2 linked regions of the Homo sapiens genome follow. Changing the gene in region 2 together with the main gene of any one other region gives a genetic interaction. Each region holds a gene or a part of one and is shown on either strand. Other genes may lie near its edges.

Region 1 (3,825 bases), on a different chromosome or scaffold from region 2:
GCACTGCTGGAGGCCAAGGTAGGCGGATCACCTGAGGTCAGGAGTTTGAGACCAACCTGGCTAACATGGCGGAAACCTGTCTCTACTAAAAAATACAAAAATTAGCCAGGCATGGTGGCAGGCACCTGTAATCCCAGCTACTTGGGAGGCTGAGGCAGGAGAATTGCTTGGACCTAGGAGATGAAGGTTACAGTGAGCCGAGATCGTGCCACTGCACTCCAGCCTGGGCAACACAGCAAGACCTTGTCTCAAAAAAAAAAAGCTGAATAAAATTAATCATGAATAATGAGGCTTAACAATAAACACTGAACTGTTAAAATGGCAATAGTGAAATAAAGGCTCATACAAATATTTTTAAAAGCCAAAAGTTTATTTTAGTTTACTACTTTGCCGTAAAAATTTAAGATCTAACCTGATTGATCCAAGGATATGTAAAATCTTCTCTCCATCTAATGGATAGTCAACATTTGGGGGTGGGGAGGGACGCTGAAATATAAATATCATAAACATAAGTCCACACATGTTGTAACCTTTGCAAAAAGATGCCTTTTTTTTTTTTAAACTTACCTCATTATTCCCATCAATATTAAATTTTGCTGCTTGGATTTTTAGTCCTCGCTTCAGATCACTTACAAAGCAAGTACGCGCTTTAAGGAAGAAAAGGAGACCTTATTATGGCTAGTTATTATAATTGAACAGAGTGTACCTACACCCCAGTTAAAACAATTCTATTCAAGTGAACATGCTCATCATCTATTCCTTTGGATTTTATAAACTCTATTCCCATCTTTAGTTAGCTAACAATAATTTGTTCATTAAAAAACCTGTTTTGGCCAGGTGCAGTGGCTCTTGCCTGTAATCCCAGCACTTTGGGAGGCCGAGGCAGGCGGATCACCTGAGGTCAGGAGTTCGAGACCAGCCTGCCCAACAGGGCGACACCCCATCTCTACTAAAAATACAAAAAATTAGCCGGGCGTGGTGGCGGGTGCCTGTAATCCCAGCTGCTCCGGAGGAGGAGGCAGGAGAATTGCTTGAACCCGGGAGGTGGAGGTTGCAGTGAGCCGAGATCGCGCCACTGCACTCCAGCCTGGGCAACAAAAGTGAAACTCCATCTCAAAGAAAAAAAACAAACCAGAACAAAACAAAACAAAAAAACAACCTTTTTCATTGACTAAGGTGTCATAAAACATGTTGTACATTCATCTTGTATAAAACCTCATTTAAAAAAAATCACCTTTGAGGAAACTGTTGTTTGATATCTCTTGTATAAGGAGGACCACAATAAAAATTAATTTTACCATCATAAAAATGTAGCTATTCTAACTGAATAGCATATTTCTTTAAACCAGATTTTCTTTCTCCCTCTCTCTGTCTGATTCTTTTTAAGGAAACTTGTTGTGAAAAGATGTTACCAAAAAGAAATTGGAAAAAAAAAGAAATAAAATTAATAAAAATGTTGGTTGGTCAGAACACAACGCCAATTTTTTTTTTTTTTTTTTTTTTTCTGACAGAGTCTCACTCTATTGCCCAGACTGGAGTGCAGTGGCGTGATCTCGGCACAATGCAACCTCCGCCTCCTGAGTTCATGCGATTCTCATACCTCAGCCACCCAAGTAGCTGGGATTACAGGCACACGCCACCATGCCCAGCTAATTTTTGTATTTTTAGTAGAGACAGGGTTTCGCCATATTGGTCAGGCTGGTCTCGAACTCCTGACCTCAAGTGATCCACCTGCCTTGGCCTCCCAAAGTGCTGGGATTACAGGCATGGGCCACTGCGCCTGGCTGGTACAATGCCAAATTTTGCTCTTAGTTGCAATTTAACATTCCTTAATTTTGGGCTTTTTGTAATGATTGTTCCTCATTAGCACACCCCAACACTACCACTTTCTTTCTACTATATCACTTTACTTTTTGCATTTTGAAAACTTTTTCTTTTAAAAATTCTATTGCAAAGTATTTTTTACAATAAGCTGCTTAAAATTATTTCAAGGTAGTTAAGGAATACCTTTTTTAAAGTAGAGACAAAATTGATGTTAAATGCAAGAAATCTGACAACTTGGTTGTATTACTTGTAAAGCATGTTAGCCATATATTATGAAAAGAATTGTGTATAATATATATAATGCATATTGATATGATATATATTATACACAATTCTTTTCATAATACATTATGTAGTGAATTTCATTCACAAATTCAAAACACATGTGTTGAGAATCCACAATATGCTACTATGCTAGACAGTGAGCTAGGCACTAAAGCTACTTATATGTTTTATATTTTATTCAAGTTCTCGTGACTATCTAAGCAAAGTAAATACCTAGCCTTGAGATCTTTTTTTTGTTTTTGAGATGGAGTCGAGACTGACTTGCCCAGGCTGGAGTGCAGTGGCGCAATCTTAGCCCACTGCAACCTCCGCCTCTGGGGTTCAAGTGATCCTCCTACCTCAGCCTCCCAAGTAGCTGGGACTACAGGTGTGCACCACCATGCCTGGTTAATTTTTTGTAGTTTTATTTTTATTTTTTTGAGACAGAGTTTCACTCTGTCATCCACGCTGGAGTCCAATGGCGTGATCTTGGCTCACTGCAACCTCTGCATCCCAGTTCAAGATCACACAATACAATGAATATGTGTATGCTGCATATTAGTTTTTGTTTTTGTTTTCTTTTGAGACAGTTTTGCTCTGTCACCCAAGCTAGAGTGCAGTGGTCTGAACTTGCCTCACTGCAGCCTCCACCAGGAGATCCCAGGCTCAAGTGATCCTCCCACCTCAGCCCCTCTAAATAGCTGGGACTATAGGTCTGTACCACCACACCTGGTTAATTTTTGTATTTTTTGTAGAGACAGGGTTCATCACGTTGTCCAGGCTGGTCTTGAACTCCTGGGCTCTAGTGATTCACCTGCCTTGGCCTCCCAAAGTGCTGGGATTACAGGGGCCAGCCACTACACCCAGCCTGCATATATTTTTTTTTTTTTTTTTTTTTTTAGACAGAGTCTCGCTCTGTTGCCAGGCTGGAGTGCAGTGGCGCGATCTTGGCTCAATGCAACCTCCGCCTCCCAGGTTCAAGCAATTCTCCTGCCTCAGCCTCCTGAGTAGCTGGGACTACAGGCGAGTGCCACCACGCCCAGCTAATTTTTGTACTTTTTAGTAGAGACGGGGTTTCACCATGTTGGCCAGAATGGTCTCGATCTTTTGACCTCGTGATCCGCCCACCTCGGCCTCCCAAAGTGCTGGGATTACAGTCATGACCCACCGTGCCCAGCCCCTGCATATTTGTTTTTAACAGAAAGGGTTTCTACTGAACATACCTTCAACAACATGCTTTCTTCCTTAACATTATGGACCTTCTTCCAAAACAATACTCTAGCTCTTAACAGCTACATAACATTCCTTATAATGAAGTTAGCAAACTTCATGCAATAACACTTTTTAGATGGGATACAACACTTTGAATTTTCATAAATATGCCAGATTGCTTTCCAAAAAGGTTAGTTTGCAATCCTTACTACTAACAATAAACATCCATTTTCCTACAATCTCACTAATACCAGATGTCTTTCAAATTTTTGCCAATCTGATGTCTCCCTGACTAATGGAAGAGTTACACATCTTTTCACAGGTTGGAGGTCATATGAAAAGAAAACACTCCACATGGTCAACAACTGTTATATCACGGAGGATAGAAATGGAAGAGAGGAAAGGAAACCATTTTACCTGAGATATTTCTGTATTATTTGAACTACTGTAATAAGCATTACAAATGATTGAAATTTTATAACAATTGAAAAGAATTTAGGTAATTAAAACACATAAAAAATAATA
Region 2 (3,825 bases):
TCAGTGGTTTAAAAAAGTTTCTGTAGCGAAATCCAAAGGTTTGCATGTTTCGTTGCCAAAAAACTTTACTACTTCATAGTGTCACAAATACAAGACAAGATTTTAGCCTCTAAATATCTTTTTCCTAAAGAATATTTAGGACAAATACCTAATGCATGCGGGGCCTAAAACCTAGATGACAGGTTGATAGGTGCAGCAAACCACCATGGCACATGTATACCTATGTAGTAAACCTTCACGTTCAGCACATGTATCCCAGAACTTAAAATAAAATAAAGAATATATGCTGTTCTTTCTAAGGGCCTGAGATTTCAGAAACTGAAAATTTTTTTTTCAAAATTCTGTTTTCTGGGCCTGACCACTTCATGAAATATGCATAATAAGAGTTTCTTAAAAGCTTGTAAAGAGTTTGGAAGCCTATTTATTGCCCTCAATAAATTTATGTCTCATTTAGGCAAAAAAATGCCAACCAAGTACAAAGGTATTGATATAGAAACAAGCAAATAAATACGACTCACTCGCATAAAACTCTGAAGCCCAGTTTCTGGATGTACTATATATGTGCATATAGAATTAATTATATTCTTTTAGTTATATAAGTACTCTCTGAGACCAGCTTTTAATTTGTATGAAAGTTTCAGTAAAACCAAATTCTTGCTACCTTATGATCAAAGCAATTAGGTATGCATGAAAGATCCAGAATGATATTCTGAGCATGGTGATTAGCCAATTTCAACATTTGGGATTAGAGGCAGGAAAAAAAAAAAAGCCAGTATTATAAGGTTTGTCTAATAGAGTTGAGACTTAAGAGTGAAGTTCCATCAAAATATTGTGATTAAGGAGTTTCAAGGCCAGGATTGAGCATTTGGTATTAATACCTACTTGGGAGAGTTATAAACTAGAAAAAATAACCTTGAGTTTCAGTTCCATATTCGATGATAACTAGATTATTATATTGGGCAATCACATAGTTGCTCACTGGAAAAATAAAATACAAATCCCCGGCCTAATTCCTTGGGTTTGGGTAGGATATGCATGGCACAGCTTAGCCTTTCTGGGTCCTGCATTTGAAACAGTATAGAATTTTAGAGCCAGAAGGGACCTGAAAGATCAGCTCACTCCATCCTACTTCACCCCAGTTGATATTTTTATCCTTGACCTCACAAAGATGTTGCTACCGAGTAGTTGCCTTCAATGTAAAATTTACTGGGCAAGATCACTTCCCATGAATACTGCTTCACACTTAATTGAGATTTTTTGGAGAAAATAATTAAAATAACTTGGAGAAAACATATAATTAAAAAATTATAGCAGATTTGGAGATGAGAAATGATGGGAAAATCATGTTTACATGCTTTCGTTTGTAAGCATGTTTCGATTTTTATAACAGTTATAAAATCTGTTATAAAAATCAAGAAACTATGACACCTTTCTCCTACCATTAATATATACATATAAAATCAACCCTGGAGTCTTTTTACAGGGCTTATAATTGTGCAAGCAGTATAAGATCATCTGTGTGACTTAATGAGGCTCATAAGTCTATGGAGACAGAATCACATAATCTGGCTAAGAATTTAGATGTTTACGGCTTTTGTTGGGTGGGTCAGATTCCATTCCTGAGAAAAGGATGGCTTTGAAATGCCTAATCTGGAATTTGTCATAGAAGTAATACTTGACCTTCTGCCATTTTCGAGCTATCTTCACTCAGGACCTTGAGGTAAAGCTATGATTATAGAGCAGTGATTTTAAATTTGTTACATAGGTGCTGTAAATGTGAGGAACTATAATTTATAATTTATTAACTCTCTAGTTTTAAAAATTGTTCATGGAAATTAAAACAAAAGATGGTTTATTAATATATAAAAACAAGTCCTCATTAAAATAACTGAGACAATCAAAAGTTTTTTTAAATGGAGAGGATGCAATGAATGAAAAATATAGCTTTCAAGAAAATGAATGCCATATCAAAATATATTAATACAGTAGTTCATAACAGATAAAACAAATATCAAATGGAACAAAATTTTCAAGCAAACTTAAGGATGTATGTTGTCTCTTTTACCATCAAAGTCAAGTTAAAACTGAGACAAAAAGGTTGTTGCTTTTCTCCCTTTTCTGTTATCTTGACTTTTCTTCCCCAGTTTTGAGTAAAAACTGGAAGCACTGACTGCATTTTGGTTCAGCTTTTCCTACTCCTTTTGACCTCAAACCCATAGCTTCTTGATTGCCTCTTCTCTATAATTGCTAACCTCTGCTTCTGTTGGACATTGTAAGTAGGTTTTCTGACAGTCAATTAAGTGGTTTCTCATAATCAAAATCAAGGCTTCTAGAATCAGGCATATATAGTATGTTTTAAATAATCAGTAAGACTACTTTCTCCATACCACCTATTCTGTTCCTTTCCGATTTAGTAGTCATCTTAAATCTGAAAACATTACCATAAAAATCCATTGATTTGGCTGAGCGTGGTGGCTCACACCTGTAATCCCAGTACTTTGGGAGGCCAAAGCAGGCGGATCACGAGGGTTGAGGCAGGAGAATCGCTTGAACTGGGAGGTGGAGGTTGCAGTGAGCTGAGATCGCGCCAATGCCCTTCAGCCTGGCCGATAGAGGAGGACTCCATCTCAAAACAAAAACCAAAAATGAAAAATCCATTGATTTAGTAGCTGTATTGCTGTGACAAGGACTGGAACATAAAAACGTTCAATAAATATTAGTGAAGAAATGGTCTTGTGCAAGATGTTTAATTTAGCTAAGCCTCAGTTTCTGTCCTTAACTTTGGCATTCAGCTGGCCTTCCTTACAAAATTACTGTGTATGTTAAAGTATTTAGAAGCATATGAAGTACTATATAAATTTAAAATGATTTTTAACTGTTATTTTCAATTCATAGGAGGCAGAGGGTTAGCATTATACTTGCTAATTAACTTGTTCCTTGCTGTAGTAAAAATGTTCTAGATTTTCAAGAACAATTCTGATTTTATATTGTCTTTCATGTGGTTTAATCACGTAAACCATTGAAAAATCTCAAATTCACATATATAATGTGCAAACCATATCTTCTGTCTGTCTCATAGCTGCCCACCAGTCGCCTGTCAGACAGTGTTCTTATTTGGAAAGTTTCATAGGAAGCTAGTTCCTAGTACAGTGACAGTACTTATATAACACCCTAAGAAAAATATTGGCGATAGATAGTTCAGGCAAGATTTTTTTCAGGTAGTGTTTTCTCTTTGTATTTTTAATATTAGCATTTTAAATATAAAATTGTATAAAGATTTTTACTAAGCATTAACTTTGAAGATACTTTATTTCAGAGAAATATGGCCGAGCTCTCTAAGGATTCTGCCAGCCAGGGCACTGGCCAAGGAGACCCTGGACCTGCTGCTGGACACCATGCTCAGCCCTTGGCCTTACAAGCAACAGAAGCAGAAGCTGGTAATTGGATTTTGTTCCCACCAGTCTTTGTAGCATCCATAATCACCCATCTGAAGGGTTGCTTTGAGGATAAAAGGAGATCATAGATGTGAACAAATGGGTAATAATCGTCTGACTTAATGTCCCCTCTTCCTAGATTTCATTTTGTATTTAGATAAGAGGGTTAATTTAGGCCCTCTTCTTCTATTTATGGTTTTCCCTTCATTCACAACTGATTCTTGTTACAAGGAGAATCATGAGAGTTTTAATGGAGAAGTCATGTTTTTATTCCCTGAAATCAAGGGTTTCACATCAGAGAATTGCCAAGTAATACAGACTTTTTCATTCAAATTACTGAAACTAATTTCAATCACTTTTTAATGGAAATCTTTCTGAAATGTATTAGATG

Evidence for each region.
Region 1: changes in CEP152 (region 2) and ACTR10 together harm fitness more than expected from each alone (negative genetic interaction), as found in Homo sapiens cells (one large-scale study listed by BioGRID).

What each region holds. Positions count from the first base shown.
Region 1 is NC_000014.9:58,220,444-58,224,268, reverse strand, and holds part of ACTR10 (actin-related protein 10), read right to left. Parts: intron 669-3,825; coding exon of another isoform or gene 648-668; coding exon 568-647; intron 487-567; coding exon 413-486; intron 1-412. UniProt on the Homo sapiens protein: Part of the dynactin complex that activates the molecular motor dynein for ultra-processive transport along microtubules.
Region 2 is NC_000015.10:48,751,961-48,755,785, reverse strand, and holds part of CEP152 (centrosomal protein of 152 kDa), read left to right. Parts: intron 1-3,316; coding exon 3,317-3,437; intron 3,438-3,825. UniProt on the Homo sapiens protein: Necessary for centrosome duplication; the function also seems to involve CEP63, CDK5RAP2 and WDR62 through a stepwise assembled complex at the centrosome that recruits CDK2 required for centriole duplication.